7 linked regions of the Homo sapiens genome follow. The protein of the gene in region 6 purifies or fractionates together with the protein of the main gene of each other region. This does not show direct contact. Each region holds a gene or a part of one and is shown on either strand. Other genes may lie near its edges. The genes, in order: MELK, TBC1D25, SLC25A12, SLC30A4, RALGPS2, SRGAP2 and DEPDC1B.

Evidence for each region.
Region 1: the proteins of SRGAP2 (region 6) and MELK purify together in Homo sapiens (affinity purification with mass spectrometry, with the first as the bait; one large-scale study listed by BioGRID). This does not show direct contact.
Region 2: the proteins of SRGAP2 (region 6) and TBC1D25 purify together in Homo sapiens (affinity purification with mass spectrometry, with the first as the bait; one large-scale study listed by BioGRID). This does not show direct contact.
Region 3: the proteins of SRGAP2 (region 6) and SLC25A12 purify together in Homo sapiens (affinity purification with mass spectrometry, with the first as the bait; one study listed by BioGRID). This does not show direct contact.
Region 4: the proteins of SRGAP2 (region 6) and SLC30A4 purify together in Homo sapiens (co-immunoprecipitation; one large-scale study listed by IntAct). This does not show direct contact.
Region 5: the proteins of SRGAP2 (region 6) and RALGPS2 purify together in Homo sapiens (affinity purification with mass spectrometry, with the first as the bait; one large-scale study listed by BioGRID). This does not show direct contact.
Region 7: the proteins of SRGAP2 (region 6) and DEPDC1B purify together in Homo sapiens (affinity purification with mass spectrometry, with the first as the bait; one large-scale study listed by BioGRID). This does not show direct contact.

The regions. Positions count from the first base shown.
Region 1 is NC_000009.12:36,673,895-36,678,182, forward strand, and holds the end of MELK (maternal embryonic leucine zipper kinase), read left to right. Parts: intron 1-939; coding exon 940-1,043; intron 1,044-3,265; coding exon 3,266-3,443; 3' UTR 3,444-3,788; downstream 3,789-4,288. UniProt on the Homo sapiens protein: Serine/threonine-protein kinase involved in various processes such as cell cycle regulation, self-renewal of stem cells, apoptosis and splicing regulation. Has a broad substrate specificity; phosphorylates BCL2L14, CDC25B, MAP3K5/ASK1 and ZNF622.
Region 2 is NC_000023.11:48,546,214-48,549,713, forward strand, and holds part of TBC1D25 (TBC1 domain family member 25), read left to right. Parts: intron 1-3,300; exon of another isoform or gene 3,301-3,431; intron 3,432-3,500. UniProt on the Homo sapiens protein: Acts as a GTPase-activating protein specific for RAB33B. Involved in the regulation of autophagosome maturation, the process in which autophagosomes fuse with endosomes and lysosomes.
Region 3 is NC_000002.12:171,887,745-171,891,244, forward strand, and holds part of SLC25A12 (electrogenic aspartate/glutamate antiporter SLC25A12, mitochondrial), read right to left. Parts: intron 1-3,500. UniProt on the Homo sapiens protein: Mitochondrial electrogenic aspartate/glutamate antiporter that favors efflux of aspartate and entry of glutamate and proton within the mitochondria as part of the malate-aspartate shuttle.
Region 4 is NC_000015.10:45,479,106-45,481,930, reverse strand, and holds the end of SLC30A4 (probable proton-coupled zinc antiporter SLC30A4), read left to right. Parts: 3' UTR 1-2,325; downstream 2,326-2,825. UniProt on the Homo sapiens protein: Probable proton-coupled zinc ion antiporter mediating zinc import from cytoplasm potentially into the endocytic compartment. Controls zinc deposition in milk.
Region 5 is NC_000001.11:178,892,744-178,896,243, forward strand, and holds part of RALGPS2 (ras-specific guanine nucleotide-releasing factor RalGPS2), read left to right. Parts: intron 1-1,175; coding exon 1,176-1,281; intron 1,282-3,500. UniProt on the Homo sapiens protein: Guanine nucleotide exchange factor for the small GTPase RALA. May be involved in cytoskeletal organization. May also be involved in the stimulation of transcription in a Ras-independent fashion.
Region 6 is NC_000001.11:206,458,541-206,461,738, forward strand, and holds part of SRGAP2 (SLIT-ROBO Rho GTPase-activating protein 2), read left to right. Parts: intron 1-82; coding exon 83-407; intron 408-1,044; coding exon of another isoform or gene 1,045-1,134; exon of another isoform or gene 1,135-1,139; intron 1,140-2,496; coding exon 2,497-2,880; 3' UTR 2,881-3,198. UniProt on the Homo sapiens protein: Postsynaptic RAC1 GTPase activating protein (GAP) that plays a key role in neuronal morphogenesis and migration mainly during development of the cerebral cortex. Regulates excitatory and inhibitory synapse maturation and density in cortical pyramidal neurons.
Region 7 is NC_000005.10:60,599,167-60,602,666, reverse strand, and holds part of DEPDC1B (DEP domain-containing protein 1B), read left to right. Parts: intron 1-3,406; coding exon 3,407-3,500.

The sequences.
Region 1 (4,288 bases), on a different chromosome or scaffold from region 6:
GGGAACAAATACATATTTAAAAATATTTATCCATGTGCCACCCAGAATTACCTTGTCTATCTTGTATCACACTATGAGAAGCACTACCTTAAGAAATTTGTATCTCTTCTTTGGGCCATAGGTTCTTATTTTGAAAAGTAAGATAGTTGGATACTTTTCTTCCTAGGCATTTTGTTATTTATACAATGAACTCAAACCTGAAAGATATAGAAACTATGGTTTTGTTTGACAGTGAAGGTACTTACCAGGAAGGGAGGGATTTTTGTGTGTCCAGGACCCACTAAAACAGTGCCTACCACATAGTAAACATTCAAAAGTAGTTGTTGAATGAATGAAGGATAAATATCAATTAGGAATGAAATTATCTCTGAGAATTAGGCTCTCAGTCAATGAGAAAAAATAATATGACATCACTTTTTTAAAGGAATACCTGTTACATTTATTTCCTCATAGAACTGTCATAAAATCAGCTCCTGGAACTCTATAATATTCTTTAAATAATCCAGAAAGAGTTAAGGAAACATATCCAACTAGGTACAAAGCAAACTTTGTATGGTGTTTGTTTATCTTTCCGTGGTATACATTTCAGGACTGTTAATGTCTCTTAAAATAGTGTGGGAAGGGGAAAATAGGCAAAGCTCAAACAGTTAGATGGGTGCTCTTTAATATTTATTTCTTTAAAAGGATTGGTAGGAGAGGAAGATGAAAGTATGAAAAGGAAGCTATGGGTGTGTTTACTAATAACCATAACTTCTCCAAGCTCTCCCAGTGGGCCATTAACTCACTAAGAGTTGACTGTAAATTCCTTTGATATTTTTTAGGAAATAGTTCCATTTGAAACAGTACTATATTGAGGAGTTTTGGAACTCTTGATCTGGTGTGATGGTCTTTGTGTTGATGTAAAAATTTACTTCTCATCTCTTCTTTTTCTTTTCTTAGCTTCACTATAACGTGACTACAACTAGATTAGTGAATCCAGATCAACTGTTGAATGAAATAATGTCTATTCTTCCAAAGAAGCATGTTGACTTTGTACAAAAGGGGTAAGAAGCACATTTACAAGCTGTTGCATTTATTAGTATCTTTTGGACTTTGAGAAAATAGGAGTTGGTTGGGCGCGGTGGCTCACGCCTGTAATCCCAGCACTTTGGGAGGCTGAGGTGGGCAGATCACTTGAGGCCAAGAGTTCAAGTTCAGCCTGGCCAACATGGAGAAGCCCTGTCTCTACTGAAAATACAAACAATTAGCTGGGCATGGTGGCACATGCCTGTAGTTCCAGCTACGTGGGAGGCTGAGGCATGAGAATCACTTGAACCTGGGTGGAGGCTGCAATGAGCTGAGATCACACCACTGCACTCCAGCATAGGTAACAGAGCGAGACTCTGTCTCAAAAAAAAGAGAAAATAGAAGTTGATCTCCTCACCCCTGTGCTTTAGAAAAAATGTATTTCTCCCACCTCATTCCCAAAAGCTTTTGAGGTAGTGTTATTGCTTATAATTTATTCTCTTTTGTTTGGTTCAAGCTATAAAAGTTTTAGAAGCACAGATATTGTCCCACTTTATTTCAAAATAGGAAAATTCAAAATTCTTCTGGCTTTCTTGTAGATCCTCTATTTTCCTTTGATTGTCTGCTTTACAATAATATTTATAAATTATAATCTAAATTTGTGAGACATTTCAAATGAATCAGGGATTTATACAGAATCCTTCTCTTCATGACTGGCTGTTTTACAGGGCTGGGTTTTCAGTGCTTTAGGAAGTTTTTTCACCTTACCTCTCTCCCGCTGTTGAAGGAACTGCCATCAAAGCCTCCTTGGTTATGATCTCCTGGTCTCAATAGCCAGGCCTCTTCTGGTCACCCAAGATGGCCGTATTTCTAAGCATTTCCATTCAATTATTTCCCTTTAAAATTTCTTTATTAAAGCAACCAGAAGAGACATGCATGGATTTAAACATGTAAATAGAATAGTCAATATAGAGTAAGATTTGAAGAAACAATCTTGTGCAGATATAATTTTTAGTTTTTAGTTATCTGTAAATGTTGGCAAGCATTCCTTCTGTGAACCCTGGCATTCCTCTCAGGCTTCATTAGAACACATCTCTCCCACTCTGATCTCTTCTTCATGCTTGGGGCTATGAGCCTCTGGGCATACCTCTGTCACAGGTCTCTCAATGATCTATTATCTAACATGTGACTAAATTGTTCTATGCCTCATCTTCTTGTCAAGAATCTTAACTTCAGGGTGCTCCTTTTGGCATTTTTGATGTTGACTGCTTATTTTTGAGAGATCAAGCCTCTTTCCCAAAACACATGACTAAGTTAGTAAGAAAAAGAATATTTTGGTACATAACAGTATGAAACAGAAAAAAGTACATAACTGAAACAATGTAACTTCTCCACACATCTGTGGAACAGCACTTAATCAGGAACCCTTAAGTATTTAGGGAATTGAAACTTAAAATCAGTCCTATTTATTGAAGATTGGTAAGACAAACAAAACTCTAAAATAGAATGTAAACTAATTAAATATTATTACATGAATTAAATTTATACAGCTTTGCAGGATCATACGTATGTCTTAAGATGTGTTTCAGGCTTCATTTTGACTGGGCCTTTCCATTCTCAGAGTAGATAATGCGGCAGTTCTATCTATAAATGCCGTACGTTTCAGTTATGGGAATATACCATTTCCTTGGGCTTTTTCTTCTGCTTTTCTTTCTGCCATAAAGTGATGTGATGATCGTCATAAGAGGTTATCTCTCATTACTAATTAGAAAAACCTCAAAAACACACGTGCCTTTCTGACAGGTTACTGGCTTCAGCTTTATTTATATGAAAGACAAGTTTCTGACAAGGCTCACACACATGAAATATTATCTTTCTTGCGCTTTCCTTTGTTGTGAATGTTGTGGAAATGCCCAATGTTTGCGGATTACACGTTGAAAGGATTGCATAAAGAATGCCAGATTTCTTGAGCATGAATGGCATGTATAGCTATGAAACAGGGGCTTTTCTTTGGAGCAAGGGAGACTTGTAATAAAGCCTTTTCATGCTTATTCTTAGGATCCTAGTTCAGTTTCTGGGAAAACACCAGTCATACTCTATTACTAAAGCATAGCTAGGTCATTTGGAAACTGTAAACAGTAATACATTGCTTAATATGAAATAATGGTTCATTTCCTCCACTGGCCTCCTAGAGGCTTAGAAAACTCTTATACAGAATATGGTTCTCCTACTAACTAGCTTCTTATCTTGTTTTTCACAGTTATACACTGAAGTGTCAAACACAGTCAGATTTTGGGAAAGTGACAATGCAATTTGAATTAGAAGTGTGCCAGCTTCAAAAACCCGATGTGGTGGGTATCAGGAGGCAGCGGCTTAAGGGCGATGCCTGGGTTTACAAAAGATTAGTGGAAGACATCCTATCTAGCTGCAAGGTATAATTGATGGATTCTTCCATCCTGCCGGATGAGTGTGGGTGTGATACAGCCTACATAAAGACTGTTATGATCGCTTTGATTTTAAAGTTCATTGGAACTACCAACTTGTTTCTAAAGAGCTATCTTAAGACCAATATCTCTTTGTTTTTAAACAAAAGATATTATTTTGTGTATGAATCTAAATCAAGCCCATCTGTCATTATGTTACTGTCTTTTTTAATCATGTGGTTTTGTATATTAATAATTGTTGACTTTCTTAGATTCACTTCCATATGTGAATGTAAGCTCTTAACTATGTCTCTTTGTAATGTGTAATTTCTTTCTGAAATAAAACCATTTGTGAATATAGCAGGCTTCTCTTTTTTGTATTTGATTTTGATCCAAATAAAACCTCAAATGGCTTCCTGACTATTAAGTAGAGACTATTTGGAGTATGTTTTATCTGTTATCAAATATGCCTTGGGCAGAAAAACAGATAAGAATTCATTTGCATAATTTTTTCCTGTCTGATTTAAGTAGGATTTATTGAGATCGTTAACTGTCACAGCTGTGGTTACCAGAGTTAAACAACACATTTAATATGTTGAATAAAAGAGTATTGACTTTAAGTATGTTTGGTCAACAAATGATAAGTATCCGAACTATGAACCCCCCCTGAAATGTTACTTTATGGTAATTTCCCTAAGTCTCAATGTTGGCCCCAAATTTGTATTTTTATTTCATTTTATTGGTCTCCAAAGGCTAGAACTCAAGTTATATTGGTATGGATTTCACCAATTAAACTAGTTGGAGAAAAAATAGCACTCCTTCTGGTCAGTAGTGAAGGGAATGTTTTGTCATTCATTTAT
Region 2 (3,500 bases), on a different chromosome or scaffold from region 6:
AAAAAAAAAAAAAAAAGAGGCTGAGCACGGTGGCTCACGCCTGTAATCCCAGCAGTTTAGGAGGCCGAGGCGGGCAGATCACAAGGTCAGGAGATCGAGACCACCCTGGCTAACACGGTGAAACCCTGTCTTTACTAAAAATACAAAAAAATAGCCGGGCGTGGTGGCGGGTGCCTGTAGTCCCAGCTACTCGGGAGGCTGAGGCAGGAGAATGGCATGAACCCGGGAGGCGGAGCTTGCAGTGAGCCAAGATCGCACCACTGCACTCCAGCCTGGGCAACAGAGCAAGACTCCATCTCAAAAAATAAATAAAATAAAAAATAAAAAAAGAGCCCTAATCCCATCTGTGAGAGCTCTACCCTCAGGACTTAATCACCTCTTAAAGGCCCCCACCTCTTAATATGATCACATTGGTAATTAAATTGCAACACATGAATTTGGAAGGACACATTCAAACCATAGCAGTGTGGTAGTGGTATCATATCTATTGAAGGAAAATATCCTTGTTCTTGGGAAAGACACAGTTAAGTATGAAGGGGTAAAATGTCATGATGTCTGCAAATAAGTTGGCAAAAATAATGTGTTTATATACAGAGAGAGTGAGATAAAGCAAATGTGGCCCAAAAAAATGTTAATAGAGGATCTAGATGAAGTATGTATGGGTGTTCAGTGTATTCTTTTAACTTTATTGTAGGTTCAAAATTGTTTTAAATAGTTGTGGAGTGGAAGATGTGGTTCCCAGCCTCAGGAAACTCATGTGCCCATTTGGGATGAGTCGAGCACTTTATTGATGTCATAATAACATATAACTAGCTAATGTGTAGTGAACACTTAGGGCCATTCTGTGCACATAATATTTTTTCACTGAATTGTCAAAATAATCCTATAGAGTAGGGACAATCATTTTCCCCATATTATAGATGAGGAAACTGAGGCTCAGAGAGGTGACAGGACTCGTCCCAGTTATACAGACAGTAAGTTGAAGAGCAAGATTTGAACTCAGGCAGTGGCTGAACTGGCTCCAGAGTCCTTGTTCTTAACCATTTAACTCTACAACATTTTGGACTTGTTAAAATTGGCAGCTTTGCAAAAGAGAGACAGAGGAGAGAGAGAAACAAGAGTCAGAGGGAAAGATAGTGACAGAGATGGGCAGGAAGCCAAATAGGAAAAGCCAGGTAGCCAGACACACAGGAACCTCTGCCACTGAGTAGCCATATGTGCTTATGTCAGTCACTTAATTCCCTGGGCCTTGTTTTCCTCACCTGTTAAAGAGACACAGTAGCACTATTTCAGGAAAAAAATCAAATCTGCATGGCTACGAAACATGTGGAGAAAACCCCAAGTGCATGAGAACTGGGACGAATGCCAGTAAAGCAGAGAGACAGACAGAAAGACACCCAGTAGTCTGGCAGGAATACATCTTTAAAAGGTTATCTTTTTAGGCCAGGCGCCGTGGCTCACGCCTGTAATCCCAGCACTTTGGGAGGCCGAGGCGGGTGGATCACCTGAGGTCAGGAGTTCGAGACCAGCCTGGCCAAACATGGCGAAACCCTGTCTCTACTAAAAATACAGAAATTAGCCGGGCGTGGTGGTAGGCGCCTGTAATCCCAGCTACTCGGGAGACTGAGGCAGGAGAATTGCTTGAGCCTGGGAGGCGGAGGTTGCAATGATCCGAGCTCGTGCCACCGCACTCCAGCCTGAGTGACAGAACTAGACTCCATCTCAAAAAAAAAAAAAAAAAAGCCCTCTGTCTTATTTACCAAATTCCTGCACAACATCGGTCTGTTTCTGAATTCCTGATTCTCTTACGTTGATCTATTTATTAAATTATAAGCCAATTCTATGTTGTTTTAATCATTGTAGTAGTTTGTTTTCTGTTTGTTTGTTTGGTTTTGAGGGTTTTTTTTTTGTTTTTTTTTTGAGACAGGGTCTCACTCTGTCATCCTTGCTGGAGTGCAGTGGCCCAATCTCAGCTCACTGCAGCCTCCACCTCCCAGGCTCAAGCAATTGTCCCACGTCAGCCTCCTGAGTAGCTGGGCCTATAGGCACATGCCCCCATGCCCAGCTAATTTTTGTATTTTTTGTAGAGACAGGGTTTCGCCGTGTTGCCCAGGCTGGTCTTGAACTCCTGGACTCAAGCAGTCTGCCCGCCTCAGCCTCCCAAAGTGCTGGGATTACAAGCAAGAGCCACCGCACCCAGCCTTAATCATTATAGTTTTATGATATGTTTTCATGTTTTCCTTTTTAAAAAATTTTCTTGAATATTCTTGTTCACTTACTGTTCTTTTTATTTAATAAATCAGCTTATTATTCCATTAAAATCCTGACGGGAATTTGATTGGAGTCATATTTTTAAGAGAAACTAATCTTTCATTACCCAGTAAATACATTCTTATTAAAAATAAAAGCATTTTAAATAATGCTGAAGTCTCCTGGGAACGCTATGCCTAATCTCAATCCCCTACCCTACCCTTTTTGCCCCGAGGGAATCGGTTTGATGTGTAACTTTGCATGTCCTTTACTTATTTACACTCCCTACACACACATTTATCCACATATGTGAGTATATTCATATTTGCGTGTCTGTACACATAAACGGTATGTGTTTAACATAAGGTATTCTACACATTAATATGTAAGTGTCCAATATATGGAGCTATCATTAGACATATTAATGGCATTCTCATGATCATTTTCATGGCTGTGAAAGCAACAGACATGTTGGGACTGTTTGGATGGCCCAGTCCCTCTTTCTGGGAAAAAGCCAGTTTCTGTCACCTCTACAGTTGGGAGATTACAAAGCCTAGACCTTTGACCAATTTGTACTTTTCCGATATGAATCTTTTTTCTTTTTGAGACTCTCTTTGTCACCAAGGCTGGAATGCAGTGACGCAAATATGGCCCACTGCAGCCTTGACCTCAAGCTCTCCTCCTGCCTCAGGCTTTCAAGTAGCTGGGACTACAGGTGTGCACCACCATGCCCAGCTAATTTTTGTATTTTTTGTAGAGACATGGTTTTGCCATGTTGGCCAGGCTGGTCTCGAACTTCTGACCTCAAGTGATCCACCCACCTCGGCCTCTCAAAGTGTTTGGATTACAGGCGGGAGCCACCGTGCCCAGCCCCCAACCTCCTTTCTATCATAGGTACTGCAAATATTTTTCCCAGTTGATCTTTTGTTTTTTGGCTTTGCTTACGGGATGGATCTGTTTTGTCCTATCAAAATTAAACATTTGATTGCACGCCTACACAGATATCTATCTTTTTCTTTATGATTTCTGAGTTTCTCCTTTTTATTGCAGGTGGAGGGACAGAGTTTCACTCTCATTGCCCAGGCTGGAGTGCGATGGCGCGATCTCGGCTCACTGCAACCTCCGCCTCCTGGGTTCAAGTGATTCTCCTGCCTCAGCCTCCCAAGTAGCTGGGATTACAGGCATGTGCCACTACACCTGGCTACTTTTGTATTTTTAGTAGAGATGGAGTTTCACCATGTTGGTCAGGC
Region 3 (3,500 bases), on a different chromosome or scaffold from region 6:
GTAAAATCTTAGCTTAAACCAGTTGTAAAATTACAGCACAGCCTAACACATAAGAATTCATTTGTTGTACTCCAATTTCATGAACTTGGCAGAGTGGAGGTGGGCAGAAAAAGGCAGAATCTTAGTGCATACTGTTGTTGTTGATGTTTTTTAACTAATAGAAACATAGCTCATCAAAACTTGAGAAGCAATGAACACCACAGGAAAAATGAACCTATTTCCCTATATTCAAAATAATAATGCTTTACTCTTATAAAGCCCTTCTTATGAACTCCCACACCAATTCTCATACAATTTCACTAAACATAGATACATAAATAAGTCAGTTGCCACTTTCTTTTCTTTTTTCCTTTTTTTTTTTTTTTTTGGAGACAAAGTCTTGTTCTGTCACCCATGCTGGAGTGCAGTGGTATAATGATAACTCATTGTAACCTCGAACTTCTGGGCTCAAGTGATCCTCCCATCTCAGCTTCCAGAGCAGCTAGGACCACAGGCATGTACCACCGCACCCAGCTAAATCTATATACATATATTTGTAGCCATGGAATCTCGCTTTGTTGCCCAGGCTGGTCTTGAACTCCTGGCCTCAAGTGATCCTCCCACCTCAGCCTCGCAAAGCACTGGGATTACAGGTATGAGCTGCCGCACCCAGCTGATATACCAGTACTTTCAAATAAAAATATATATATATTTTTTTAATTATTATTTTTTTTGAGACAGTGAGTCTCGCTCTGTCGCCCAGGCTGAAGTGCAGTGGCACAATCTCGGCTCACTGCAACCCCCGCTTCCCGGGTTCAAGCGATTCTCCTGCCTCAGCTTCCCTAGTAGCTGAGATTACAGGCGTGCGCTACCACATCTGGCTAATTTTTTATATTTTTTATAGAGACAGGGTTTCACCATGTTGCCCAGGCTGGTCTCAAACTCCTGACCTCAAGTGATCCACCCGCCTCAGCCTCCCAAATTGCTGGGATTACAGGTGTGAGCCACCACACCCGGCCATTTTATTGTTTTACAAATGACTTTTGACCCATGGCTCAAAAGTTTAACAAAATATTCTTATTTGAAAGTAGGAATTTTTATTGACTATTTGTGAACTTAAACAGTTAATGCCACAGATCTACATTTTACAAAGAGTTTTCAACTGTACTCTAAAATTTAAAATTATATCTCTTTATAGTCTTTAAGTAGCTCAGATAATTCTAAACTCAAGTGACCCCAAAATCCTCCCCAAACTAAATCATACTAATAACAGAATAATCTACATTTTAACCTTTAATTATATCCTTCTTGTGAAACTCCTACTTTAAACTTTCATGGGACCATTCTCCCTATTTCCCCTCCTCCTCCTTCCTACTTCAATTGGAGATATCACTTATAAATCAGCCCCTGATCCTCTGCCTTGCTTTATATACAAGGAATTCATCTACCACCTGCACAAATTTGTATCTGTCCAAATCCAACTTTAACTTAGTGAGATACATTTGTTTAGCAACCAAACTAACCCCATCCCCCCAAAAAATATTATCTAAATAGATGCCTTATCAATTAACACCTATCCTAAAACTGACAGGTTCACTTCTACTTCTTCCCTTACTTCCATATTTAATACCAAATTCGATAGATTCTTCCCTTACATCGCTGGTATTGTCCTTGCTTTTCATTTCCCCAGCCATCAACCACTCTAGGTCATTAATTCTCAAAAGTATTACTTCAGTAGCCTCTCAGCTTATCACCTAAGCTACTTCCAATCTCTTCATACTTTATCCAACATACACAAAAAGCTGCCAGAATTCACCACTTCAATTTGCCTACTCAGAAACCCACAGTGGCTCCCTACTGTTTCAAATCCAAATTCCTTGGCTAACTATTCTAGACAGTTACAGTGTAAAGAAACTTTTTAAATTTCATCACCTAAGTAACCAGATTTTTTTTTAACTTCTTAACACTCTGCCATTATCCCCTGATATACCTCTGTCTTTCAAAAGTCACCCCATTTCAATATCCTACCAGTAGTATTATGTAAGGGTTAAGGGTATGGGCTCTGGAATTTGATTTGAATCTGGCTCTACCACATAGTCTGACATTAATTTAACCTCATCTATGTAACAAGGATATTAAACCTGCTTCATAAAGTTGTTATGAAAACTAACATTAATATCCTTAAAGCACTAGGCCAATCTCAAGCACACTCTAAATGATCAATAAATGTTAGCCATTGTCAATATTATTACACAGCCACTATGATGTAAGAAGCCAATCTGATTGCTCTACCACAGGCTATGCATTTGCCTTCACTATTCTTGATTCCCTCAACCACAAACCATGAGAGATGGCATGGGCCTGAGAGAGCAGCTAGTCCAATCACATGTCCATCAGCATTTAGGTCTTGGCTCTGTTGTCTCTCTTGATATTCGACTTGGTGTCTGCTACTGAACAGTATTGTATTGAATAAAAGTGCATGGTACACAGCAAATAATCCTTTGTAAATATTTGTTGGGTAAATATGTTAAGTGCTAAAGAAATACACGGTTAGCATGTATTTTTGTCTTCTATTATAGCTAAAATATTAATCAACTATATGCATCTATAAAACTGTTTCATAAAACTGTTTCTAAACAGTACTGCAAAGCTTCAAATAACTATAGTTTGAAGTATTCAAGCCAGGAATAAAAATCTTTTACTTGGTAACTATCCTCAAATTGATCCAACTAGCAATACTGTATCGTGTGTGTCTGTGTGTGTGTGTGTGTGTGTGTGTAACAAGGTCTTGCTCTGTTGCCAGGCTGGAGTGCAGTGGTATGATCTTGGCTTACTGCAACCTCTGCCTCCTAGGATCAAGCAATCCTCCTACCTCAGCCACCTGAGTAGCTGGGACCACAGATGGATGCCACCAGGTGTGGCTAATTTTTAAAATTTTTTGCAGAGACGAGGTCTCACTATATTGCTCAGGTTGGTCTTGAACTCCTGGGCTCAAGTGATCCTCTAGCCTCAGCCTCCCAAAGTGCTGAGATTACAGGTGTGAGCTACTGCACTCAGCCTATATTGTTATCTTTCTTGCTGCGTTAGGCCTTTCTGAAGGTGAGTATTTACATTCTATCACTCTCTTATCTATCAATAATGCTTGTGTCAATGTTTCATACTTAGTGCTAAATAAGCAGTTATGAATTCCACAAATTTTCAACATAAAAATAAAGGCATCATCAAAATAATGTGTAAAAAGATAATGACGATATGCAAAACAGTAAATGAAAAGCTAAGATTTAAAAGTTGTCAAAGAATCGGCCAGGCATGGTGGCTCACGCCTGTAATCCCAGCACTTTGGGAGGCTGAGGCACACAGATCACGAGGTCAGGAGATCAAGACCATCCTGGCTAACATGGTGAAACCCTGTCTCTACTAAAAATACAAAAAATTAGCCGGGTGTGGTGGCACATGCCTGTAATCCCAGCTACTCGGAGGCAAGAGAATTGCTTGAACCCCGGAGGCAGAAGTTGCAGTGA
Region 4 (2,825 bases), on a different chromosome or scaffold from region 6:
CTTCTGTAAATCTTAACTATCGTGTTCTGCTTAAAGTGAGGTACACATAAAGTTTCCTGTGCTTTGTTTTTGTAGGAAAAAGTACATAGTTTGTATCTTTACCTTACGGAGTCTATGAGATTTGAGAATTTGATTTCACTTTTTGTAACTTAACCCACAGAAAAGGACATTAACTTAGCAGATAGGACCAAGGACTGAATGACTTCTGACAAAAAGCGTTTGGTCTATCCTTCACTTGTTGAGCTACAACCATGCATTACACTTCTCAGCTGAGCTCTCAAAGAGCTCTATGCCCTGTGAAAAGCAGTGGCTGAGTTGGATGAACACATAGCATTATTAATTTTGCACTGGGAAAACAGATTATGACAGGACCACAGACCACAATATAAAAACTTGGCAGTTCTTTGGTGTGATATATTTTAATTAGTATTTGCAAATAATCAGAGTTACTTGTGTACATAAACGTGTGTTTCACAACTATGGCCAGATGCAACCTTTTGGTCTGTTTCAGGAAAAGACCTATTATTCCACTAACAATTATGCTGCCTTAGAAACATAATGGGAGTGTAATTGAAGAAAGCATGTCTCAGAAGGTTTTGATATGCAGAACTGGAAGCTATTGTAATTCCTACATACATTTCCATTAGCTATGCCTTATGTAATGTGAGTGCAGATTTTTACAACTTAGAGTTCCCATCAGTGTTTTTTTGCCACATCACCGGGTTTCTTATTTTACTGTTTTCTTTTCAACTTTGGGTGCTTTATTTCCATTCTCTAAAACTAAGTTTCTTGCTCTTACGAGACTTAGTGTTCCTTTTGAACCCAGGTGTTCCACCTGACAGTGTTTGTCTTTCATAGACTTTCCAGAATAGACATAGTCAAGATCAGACACGTGAGCTTCTCTCTCATTTTAATGTGAGGAAAATCATCTTTCAGAGACAAGGCACCGCTTAGAAATGTATGTCCAGGTATGAAAGAACCTTTTTAAAATGGCTGGTTGTTCCAGATCCAGATTTCTCTGCACACTGGACTTCGTAGAGTAAGTGTGGTAGACAAAGAGACTACACTGCACAACCACCAGTGAATATCATTGCTAAGAAGACTTTGGGTCGTGTTTCTCAGCCACTCTCACAGCTTTTGTAGACTTATTTGATTTTGAAACAAGCAGTTAGCTAAATCTATTTTCCTTTTATGCATATATGTTAATTGGCTCAACTTAATATGGTGTTCTTACAGAATATGAGCCCATTTGAAATAAGGTTTTAGGCAATTTTGCTGTTGGCTCTGATTTGTATATAGCAAATTTAAAGTTACAGAGTGTTTCCTAGATAGAAGATTAGTTCATTTGGTTCATTTTGTCTTTGAAGCAAGCCAAGCTCATGAGCCAGTTGGTTATTTGTCATAAATGAACACCCATCACTATATGCTATGTTGAGGGGAGGCAAGTCTGATCTTCGAATAATTGATAAAGTTTAATATCTTTGTAGCCAAAATACAATTTGCAAACCCTAACTCCAGATGTGTCGTATGAATCTTGACAACCAGGTCTTGAGATTTGTTTTACTGATTGCCAATCAGGTATATTATTTGTGATGTTCGTGGGAGCATGCAAATTAGAAGACAGTGTTGTGGGAGTTCCTCAGTATTGAATTACATGTGTGCACTCAGGCCTGCCAGTCACTGAATTCTGACTTGTAAAGGGTTTAACCTGCTGTTCCAATCATTGAGGACCAATTTGCTTTTTGATAAGATTGGAAAACATTTATGGAGACTTTCCCAGTTAAATCTATGACAGTGTCCACTTAAATAGTGCAATTTAGTATATTCTCAGATAACTGCAACACAAAATTGAAATGTGCCAGTATGTCATCTTTCTACCTGGAAGATACTGTATATTTGGAAAGTTTATGCTTCTCTCAATAAATACATGTTATTAAATAAGCCATATCACAGTTTAAGAAATTGTATATACTTTATCATATGCCCTTTCAGAAACCAGGTATTTTGCATATGATTGATTTTAGAAAGATTTTGAAGCTGGGGTTTGTCCATGTTAATTAAGATCAAAGTATATATATATATATATATATGTGCTGTATTTGCAACTTTCACATTGTAATTTCCTATACACTTATTAAAGTATTGTTTTGCCATGTGGTTTATTAAATAAAAATGTACAGTCTCTTAAATATCTGCTCTTTTTATTAAGTAATATTAGTAGGCCTAAAAACATTGTTCTTAAAAGAAAATCTTTTATAATTATAATGTCATTTTATAATGCCCTCTTATATGTTTAAGAAATAAAACTGAAAAAAATCTTCTGGATAGTATGGAAAGATTAATTAAAAGAACCTTTCTCTTTTGGTATCAGTCACATGCAGTGACGCTACAGTCCCATCAACAGTGGCAGAAAGGAAATAAAGAAGCCACTGTAAAATAGACTGGTGAGGACCACCAGGAAGTCTGAGAGTAAGAGCCTGCTGACTCTCCAATCGTGTGGACCAGTCTACACTATACCTCCCAGGCCAAATCTGGCCTGCAAGCCTGTTTTATTTGCCCCAAGAACTAAGAATGATTTTTACATCTATTAAATCACTGGGTGCAGTGGCTCACGCCTGTAATCCTAACATTTCAGGAGGCCAAGGCAGCTGGATTGCTTGAACCCAGGAGTTCAAGACCAGCCTTGGCAACATGGTGAAACCTCATCTCTACAAAAAATACAAAAATTAACTGGGCATAGTGGCACATGCCTGTGATCCCAGCTACTCAGGAGGCTGAGAGATAGGAGGATCACTTGAGCTCAGGAGGTCTAGGCTACACTGAGC
Region 5 (3,500 bases), about 28 Mb from region 6:
ATAAAATAATCATTTGTATATTTAAATTCATATTCATTCAGTTGTTTGTCTGGTTAAACCAGGTCTCTTTTGGACTGTTATTAGCTGTGGAGGCAGATAAGGGTGGTGTATTGATTGGGAACGTGGGGTTTAGTGGTGATGGGTAATCAGTTCATAATACAACAAAATACCAAACTTCAGAAGCAAACTTTACGTCAGTTTGATGGTGTCTAATCTCCGTGCATGTACCTCCCTGAATATAAATAGCTCTAGCATGAAATTTCTACTGGTTTATAGGTTCTTAAGTCACTCTGAAGACACCTAAATAATCACAAAGGAATAAACTGGCAAACTTTAGTTTTCATTGCTCTTATAGGAATTCTGCAGCTCATGTCAAGTCACCAGTGACATTTTTGTCAGCATGTATGTTTTATTGGCTCATGTAGAAATCATTAATTATTGTATTAAACATAGGACCTTAAATCAATTAGGGAAAGATATTAAAGTGTTGGTTATTTTGTGATTTTTTTTTTTTTAAAAGATACATGAAAAGGAAATCTTGAGTTTTGGGTTTTTTCCTTTCGTGGAGAGCTATTAGGCCATAATCACTTATCCATTGACACCATTTAAATGTTATTAAAATGTATTGCAGAAAGCTAGTTTTTAAAATATATTATTATTGACTTTATTACTTCTTTCTGCTATTTTAGAATTAAATTAAGCATGTTTTCTTTTTTTTTTTTTGAGCTTGTATTTTTATTTTCAGTTTTATATATACTTAAATACTTTTAACAAATAGAATCCTCATTTTTCCTACCAGGACTTAAAGTTTCTATGTGGAAAATAAGGTTGCAACAGTGATGCAGTGTGGCATGTTAAGAAGAAGAAAACAAATCTTAAATTTTTAATTTAATATTTACTAAAGTGAATTACTGCATTCTTTCTAAATTATACTGTTCAAATATGTAATAAAGTGTGTTTTTTAACCATCTGCTGACTTTAATAACTTTCTAATCAACTTTTTGTACAGCTTATAAATTTCAAGATTAATAAACCTTTAGAATTGTCAGTGTCTTCTCAGCTCTGAATAAAGTAACAAACTTTTAAAATTAAGAATAATTACATTTTATTTAAGTACCTACTTGATGACTATTGTAGACAAAAGCTCTTATGTGTTCTTTTCTTCGTTATTATAGTTCTGCAGAATCAGAAGATTTGGCAGTACATTTATATCCAGGAGCTGTTACTATTCAAGGTGTTCTCAGGAGAAAAACTTTGTTAAAAGAAGGCAAAAAGCCTACAGTAAGATTTCATCATATTATATTTTAATACACCTCTAAAAATATGCAAATTTATAAGACTCTGTAAAAGTACTAAAACAATTAAAATAAAACCTGATTATAGTAGACTTGAAATAATATTAAATAAGGTCCTCCCCTCTTATCCTTGGGTCATCCATTCCAAGATCCCCCGGGGATGACTGAAACCTCAGATAGTACCAAACCAAATTACCATCATTTGGAACATGTTTCTGTTCATGTCTTCCATTCACAAATATAATACCTTTTCTATCTTAACTAAGCACTTAAGCCCACACAGTAACCGTAACTTTTGCAGTTTGCGATGCTATAGCAAAACTAGCATGAATTTCTTTTTCCTTCTTCACAATTTCACAGATACAAAATTTGTTCTTACCATGGATCTTAGCAACCTTAGCGTCTAATTTTTCTTTCCTTAATCCAAGAAGTTTTCTTTTCACTTAAGGAAGCAGTGGGGAGTGGGACACAAGGGTAGCACATATAGTGTGGAGACGCTGGACAAAGAAAGGGAAGATTATGTCCACAGAAGCACAGAGCAGAACTGTGTGAGATTTTATCATGTTACTCAGAACAACACATGATTTTAAAACCTGTGAATTGTTTATTTCTCAAATTTTCCAATAAATATTTTTAGACTATGGTTGCCTGTGGGTAACTGAAACCACAGATAAGAGGGAAAATATTGTACACATTTGTTTCACCATGTTTTCTTAACATAAAATGTTATTATATGTGCCATATAGATTTCTGTTAAATCATGTGTTAAGGGTGCTTAAATCCTGTACTTTTTTTTACCCCCATTATAGTTCGTATACAAAATTATTTCTTAGAGAACCCTGAAAGTATATCATGAAGAAGTATTTTAGTATTAAGTTTAGGTAAAATAGAAAATAAAGAGTAACAACCCTAAAAAATGGAATTTGATTGTGTTTTATCATTTTATTTAAATTCCTGTAATACAGTTTTGTTTTCTACATAACATAGAATCCAAATATTAAATGCTTTCCAAACCTATAACTATATTGGGGGGGGAAAAAAGGAAGATTGGTGGAACAAAGCTCTTAATATGTATCAAAGAAGTTTCTTCTTCCTCAACACCAGCATAGTAGTTTGACTACTAAGGAACAATTTTTTTCCCTTTCTCAAATTTGAAATATAAAACCTTTGATATATATTCACACTTAAAGCTTTTGAAGATATGGGGGCTTCATATAAGTAATCTTATTTTGTTGTTTATATCACAGTAAGCCAAAGGCACATACAAATCAAGAATCTCTTAGGCAGGCTAGTGAACTCAGAATTGCATGTCAGTTGAAGCATTACCATACCTTTTGTGTGCTGGATGCTAGAAATAGAGCAGTGAACAAGGTGAGGCAAAGTGTCTTCCTCCTGGATTACATTTCAGTGAGGAGAAATAGAGAATAAGGCTTTAAAATAATGTCATAGGATACAGAATGATGGGGCAAGGAGGGATGCCACCATGGCAAAACATTTGAGCTGAGATCTGAATGAGGAAGGTGAGTTAGCTGTGTGAATATCTAGAGTTCAGGAGACAAGAAGGCTTGTGTAGTTTACGCATTGAAATTGGGGAAGGTGGAGGAGATCAAGTAAGAGGCAAAAGCTGGAGTTGTTTGATGATAAATTAAACATGATGTATGAGAGAAAGAGTGAAAACAAAGATAACTTCTAGGTTTGGGGACTGAGATGGGTGTATGTTGGGGACATTTATTGAAATGGGGGGCAGGTCAGTCTTGGCCAAGTTCAGTTTGATATGCTTATTAAACATTCAAGTGGAGGTGTCATTGTGGCTGTTGAAAAAGTATGGATCATGAGGTCAGCAGAGAGGTGGCAGGGAGATAGATTTGGGAGTCATTAGCATACAGATAGATAGTATTTGAAATATGGAACTGGATGATAGATTATCTAAGAAGAAAGTATAGCTAGAGAAGAAAACAAGGTTGGAGATGGGGCTCTGTAGCATTAAAGGTCTCCCACAAAGAAGAGTATAAAGGAAAACTAAGGAACTGTTATCCCAGAAGCCTAGCAGTTACAGTACTTCAAAAAGCAAAGAGTGGCCAGCTGGGTCAGATGCTGTTAAGAGGCTGGCTATGATAAGGATAGAGGCTTTGCTAAAATTACAATCATCAGTGACCTTGATGGCCCAAAAGCCAAATGAAATGAGTTAAGTAGAAAATGGGCAAA
Region 6 (3,198 bases):
ACATCTGCCCCCTCCCACTTATCCTAGCTTCCTTGGAGCCAGGGCTCCCTGATCACACTGCCCTTTCTGTTTGTGATTGAAGGCAAAGGAAGCGTCCAGAATCTGGGAGCATCCGGAAAACTTTTCGGAGTGACAGCCATGGGCTGAGCAGTTCCCTGACTGACTCCTCCTCCCCAGGGGTGGGGGCTAGCTGCCGCCCATCCTCCCAGCCCATCATGAGCCAGAGCCTCCCCAAAGAAGGGCCAGATAAGTGTTCCATCAGTGGGCACGGGAGCCTCAACTCCATCAGCCGCCACTCATCCCTGAAGAATCGGCTGGATAGTCCACAGATCCGGAAGACTGCCACAGCGGGAAGGTCAAAAAGCTTCAATAACCATCGGCCCATGGACCCTGAGGTCATTGCTCAGGTAACTGTGGGCTCCTGGACAGACAGCATGAGTCTACATTCATCACTACCACTTAGTGCCACCCACCTAATTATGACAGGACTTGAAACAGAATGATTATTTTGTATGTGATATACTGAGTATATGTCCACTCTGGACATGTGGACCCAATAAGACAGCTTAATAAGTGGTCTGCCTGTCCCTCTCTCCCCAGGAAGAACCTAAAGACAGAATAAAAGAAGCCTAGCTTCTTGCTCATACACTGGCTATTAGGAAGGCTGTTGTAATTTTTAAAGCCGGTATTAAGAGTATTTTGAAAGCCCAAGTTTTGAGTCTAAAGACCTTGGTAGACTTTAGTGAAACTGCCCGACTGTTGAGGATCAGGTGTAATCCTGGCCACATGTTTATATTGCTGTGCCCATCACCATCATCCCGATTCCTAAGGCTAGTCTCTGGTACCGAATGGGTAGATGATCAATTAAGAACCTGCACCTGGTTTTAAAGACCTAAAAAATACTCTGGCTGCAGAGAGCTCTGGTAACCAAAAGGATTTGCAGCCCAAGCCTCCAGAGGCTATGGAGATGAGCTCCCTGGTTGCAGGGTCTTCCTTCTGTGTATGCACCGCACTGATGACTCTCTGTTTTCCATGAAATATTAGAGATCCAACCCCACCTCTAAAAATCCGACTACCGGGGCCACTCCAAGCAGTTCACTCAGACGTCTCTCCCAACTATATAATTTTCATTAGACCAGGTAGGAACTAAGGGCTTATTGTTGCCTTCTTATCTCAACTGAGTTGAGATTCTCCTTACCCCATCTTCCAGGGGGTGATAGAGGCTGGGCATGGTCTCTCTTGGCTTAATTGTGGTTCTCTGCTTACGGAGATGTACCTGGCAAGCCCAGTATTGAGCTACAGGCCTGAGATGTCTTGCTTTGCTAGCCTTCTATTCTGTGCCTCTATTTAAGCTCTTGGCTGCAATCTGCCTTGCGCTACGGGAATCCTCCCAGCTCCCTCCTTGGCCAGGTGTTAATAGGAATGTCAGGAAAGGTAGACAGCTGGGACAGACTAGCTGTAGAGTGCGACTGAGGAGGGAGATGGAGTTCTTCCTGAGCATTTTAAAGGTTTGAGAATGTCATAGGGATGAGTGAAACTGAATCACTGTGAACAGAAAGCATGCATCGGTCTGTACGACAAAGAAACCTTAACCAAAGGCCTTCGCTTGGAATGTGTAAAATCTTTCCATGTGAACCTAATCCCAAGAAGAAATCCTGTGGTAGTTTGGGGGTGCCAGACACAGGTTTATGGGGAGGGAGCGGGGAGCTGGGAAGTCTCACTGGAAGGCAGCTGGCTTGCATACAAAGGTTCTTTGGTTCTGCCTTGAGTCCCTGGGCTAGGACTGCTGTTGGCTAAAGATCTAGAGTGTTCCATTGATTTGCAGGCAATTGATTCACCTATGTGGGCTTTGGCTCCCCTTCCTGGTCATTCTTTTGTCCCCTTGGTGGTGATGGCTGGAAGGAAATGGTTTCAAATTGGACACTGCCCTGAGTTGGGGAGGAGGGGCGGGGGGAGGCGTATTGGGCTCCTGAAACTTTCCTCAGCCCCTGAGGAGGAAGGACTAACCCTCTTCACCTTTGGCCTTGAAGTCCAAGAGAATAAAGATCATACATCATCTCTACCACTTTTTAAAAAAGTGTTTATTATGTACAATTTCAAACCTACCCAAAAGCAGACAGAACTGGATAACAAATCCCCATGTACTCATCACCAAACTCCTGGCCATTCTTACTTTGTCCGTGTTTCTCTTCCCCACTAGATTATATGTCACTTCGTCGATAAGTATTTCAATATCTATCTCTAAAACCTAGGGTCTCTAAAAAAATATCAATTACTTTTTCTAAAGGAAAAAAAAAAATCTCATGACAGTGAAAATCCCTCCGTCCCCCTTTCCCTACTTCCTGAGCATTCATATGTTCAAAGATTTAGGCCAAGTACAATAATCTGGACATCTTACGGTCATTTTCTTCATGCCTTGGCCTGTGTTGTTGAAACCGGCTCCTTGGGGAATTCTCCCCTCATTTGCCTCACCTCCTCCTTTTTCCTGTTTTGCAGGATATTGAGGCAACAATGAACTCGGCCCTGAATGAGCTACGGGAACTAGAACGGCAGAGCAGTGTCAAACACACCCCTGACGTGGTTCTGGACACCTTGGAGCCCCTCAAAACCTCCCCAGTGGTGGCCCCCACGTCAGAGCCCTCCAGCCCTCTGCACACCCAGCTCCTCAAGGACCCCGAGCCCGCCTTCCAGCGCAGCGCCAGTACTGCTGGGGACATCGCCTGCGCCTTCCGGCCTGTCAAGTCTGTCAAGATGGCTGCCCCGGTCAAACCACCAGCCACACGGCCCAAGCCCACTGTCTTCCCCAAAACAAATGCCACTAGCCCTGGTGTCAACTCATCAACTTCCCCACAGTCTACTGACAAGTCTTGTACTGTCTGAGGGATAATAATTTAATTGTTCTAGACAAGGGGACTATAGGGACTGACTGTTATTAAAATCTTCCTATTTAACTAGCTTGGGGACTTCAGTTGAAAATTAGGTTCTAAGTTGTTCTTGCAGGAATTAGCCTCCCCGTCTCCCAAAACCTTGAGAATGAAGCCCTTGGTATCGCCTCTCCCTTCCCACTGCCCTCTGCTTCCCCCAGTCGTCGTAATTCAGCCAGCTGCAGTCCGTACCGTTCTTAGGTTAGCCAGAGACAGGTTTTCATTATCAGGTCACTGTGAAATCTGGTAAGGCAGTCCTGAGGACATGGGCTCA
Region 7 (3,500 bases), on a different chromosome or scaffold from region 6:
GCTGCTGTTGTCATGGTGGTTATATAAAAACAATGCAAAAGAAATATAATATATTATTATCGTGTGGACCCCAAAGTGGGGTTTGTATGTCAGCCTGTGGGAGCAGAAACCTGGTAAAGGCAGGCAGAAGGTCCACTTGACTCCTTCTGACTGATTGGACCTCTTCTCATTTGAGATCTTTTTGAGGCACCACAATCAAGGACCAGTGAACTGCCTCCTTCTGAGGTATTACAAAAATAATTAATTGTCCAGCTGTTTCTAGAAGGCAATTTTAAAATTAAAATTTTTTCTATTTTTTTGCAATTATCAACCTAACACATTGAAGAAACTTGGGAAATATAGAAAAAACACACCAAAAAGTATCAGAGTTACACTAAAATGTTCATAGTCAGTAATATAGTCTTTCAGATTTTTTTTTCTGTGTCTGTCTGCTGTCTATGTCCATGCCTACCTTACTTTCTTCCCTCTCTCTTCCCTCCCCACCCTCCCTTCCTTCCTTCCCTCCTTCCCACCTTCCCTGCTTCCTTCTTGCCTGCCTCCCTTCCTGCCTGCCTCCCTTCCTGCCACTTACATTCTGTTAACAATGAGAAAAAAATTCCCCCATCATTAAATATTGTTGATTGGCATGAGAATGGCCAAGAGCACAGACTCAGGAGCCTTTGAATTCATGACATGCCTTTTGTTAGCTGTGTCACCTTAGGCAAATTATATAACATGTCTGTGCTTCAACATCTGTCCCAACATTTCTTTTTCTCATCTGTAAAATGGGAATAATAGTAGTTAATATTTACCTCATAGAGTTTTTCTGGGGAATTAAAACATGTGATTAAAATACATGTGGGCTTAATACATGTGAAATGCTCACAATAATGTTTATCACATTGTAAACCTACAATTAGTAGCTGCCTTTGTTGTTGGTATCATCATTATTGTTATATTATTCCATAATAATATTATTGGCAACATAGTATTCCATAATATGGATATACCATAATTTATTTAAATGATACTTTTTGGTTGGTATTTAGATTGTTTTCATGCTTTCCCCCATTTTGGAAGCAATATAGCAGTAAATATTTTTAAAGGTAGATTTTTTTTGGCTAATCTGTGATTATTTTTTAAGAATAAACTCCTAGGGGCAGCATTGCTTGGCCAAAGGCCATGAACATATTTTAAGTATCTATAGCATATTGCCAAATTTAGAATGATCATTTCAATTTACATTTCTGTCAGTGGTATAAGAGAGTGTTCATTTCTTTGCCCCTTTGCCTACTTTGGATATTATCATTAACACTTGTATATATCTTTGCCACTTGCATGGGTGAAAAGTGTAATTTTAACTGCTGTTTTAGTTTAATTTTTTCCTCTGATATTTTTATGAGCCAACCCTAAAGAAAATAAAAATGAACAGAAATACTTCACCAAGTTTCTGCAAGGAAATGTTATAGCAGTGTATTAGTCTGCTCTCATGCTGCTAATAAAGACATACCCAAGACTGGGTAATTTGTAAAGGAAAGAGGTTTCATTGACTCAGAGTTCAGCATGGCTGGGGAGGCCCCAGGAAACTTACAATCATGGCAGAAGGGGAAGCAAACACATCCTTCATGAGGCAGCAGGAGAGAGAAGCACCGAGCAAAAGGGAGAAAAGCCCCTCATAAAACCATCAGATCTCATGAGAACTCACTCACTATCATAAGAACAGCATGGGGGGAACCACCCTGTGATTCAGTTACCTCCCATCTCCCACAGCAAGGGGATTATGGGAACTACATTTCAAGATGAGATTTGGGTGAGGACACAGCCAAACAATATCAAGCAATAACTGTGTTGCCCTGTATACTTGCTAGGTTTGTGTATTCACATGCATAGCACAGGCATATATTGTAGTAACTTAGCCTTGTGAGCCCTTTGCTATTACTTGAAGTTCAGAAGGCTGAGCTATGGTGATTAATTTAACTGCAGGTAAACATGATCTTGTTAAGAGACACTGCAGTGTGCTCTGAATAAAATCAGTAGTGATTCATTTGTCCAGTTACCTTTTCTCTCTTGCAAGTACATATTAGAATTGCCAAGCACCTGTTCCATTCAGCCCTCAGAACCTATAGATCTTTGTTCTTTTGATTAGGCTCCTAAGCCTCTACACTGTATCACATTTAGGGGAGTGCTTCTCTGAAAATGCAGTGTTGCTTGGATTATTCCAGTGATTGTTTTAGGACAGTTTCAGGGCTGACCCTGGGATACATTATTAGGTAGGCAATGTTTTTGACACAAGCCTTCTATGATCCTCATCTGCAACCTTCTATTTCAAAGGACTCCAGGCTCTGAAATTAAATATTTTTAATGTATGTTCATTTATTCACAGGCCTTGGTTTCCTTTTTCCTCTTATTTCTCTCTTCTCCCTTATCCCTTCTGCAATGTCTGCACCTTTGTTGTTTTACTTGATTCTCATGGGTAAGATGTTAGGAAATGATTGTAGTACCCCTCTCTTCCTAAAAGCTTAGCTAAATGCATGCCACTACCATCCCCAAGGCATTGAGAATCACACTCTTCAGATGTGGGAATGCGCCTGGATAGTTCCAGTGGATATCCAACATTATCAATGTTTTGAATCATTTTAGTCAATGTGTTTAATTTATGCTTGAATTTCAGATCTTGTTAAAAGAGGGAATGCCGAGACCAGCTCGGTCGTGGAGACCCTAACCCAGTGGCCCTAGAGGAATTAAAGACACACACACACACACACACAAATATAGAATGTGGAGTGGGAAATCAGGGGTCTTACAGCCTTCAGAGCTGAGAGCTTTGAACAGAGATTTACCCACATATTTATTGACAGCAAGCCAGTCATAAGATTTACTAAAAGTATTCCTTATGGGAAATAAAGGGGTGGGTGAAATAAAGGGAAGAGCTCTGGCTAGTTATCTGCAGCATGAACATGTCTTTAAGGCACAGATCGCTCATGCTATTGTTTGTGGTTTAAGAATGCCTTAAGCGGTTTTCCGCCCTGGGTGGGCCAGGTGTTCCTTGCCCTCATTCCTGTAAACGGACAACCTTCCAGCATGGGCATCAAGGCCATCACGAGCATGTCACAGTGCTGCAGAGATTTTGTTTATGGCCAGTTTTGGGGCCTGTTCCCAACGAGGGCACAAGCTTTTTTTGTTATTGAAATGGCTCTTGGGTTTACAAAGGTAAAAATCCAATTTAAAACCGTGGCTTTAAATAATAATATTTTGAAGTTATGGAAATACTTTTACTTTTCAATATAGAGTTTCCCCCAATCAAATTTTGAGGACTAACATGGCATTGCTACGGTACAAGGAGATATCCTGTATTTGATCTAAACTAATTCTTATAATTTATTTGAAAATATGCTATATTCTTTCACTACTAATCCTTTTGCCTCAGATAAAATACCCAGGAGCTGATATGGATATCACTTTATCTGCTCCATCATTTTGCCGTCAAATTAGTCCAGAGGAATTTGAATATCAAAGATCAT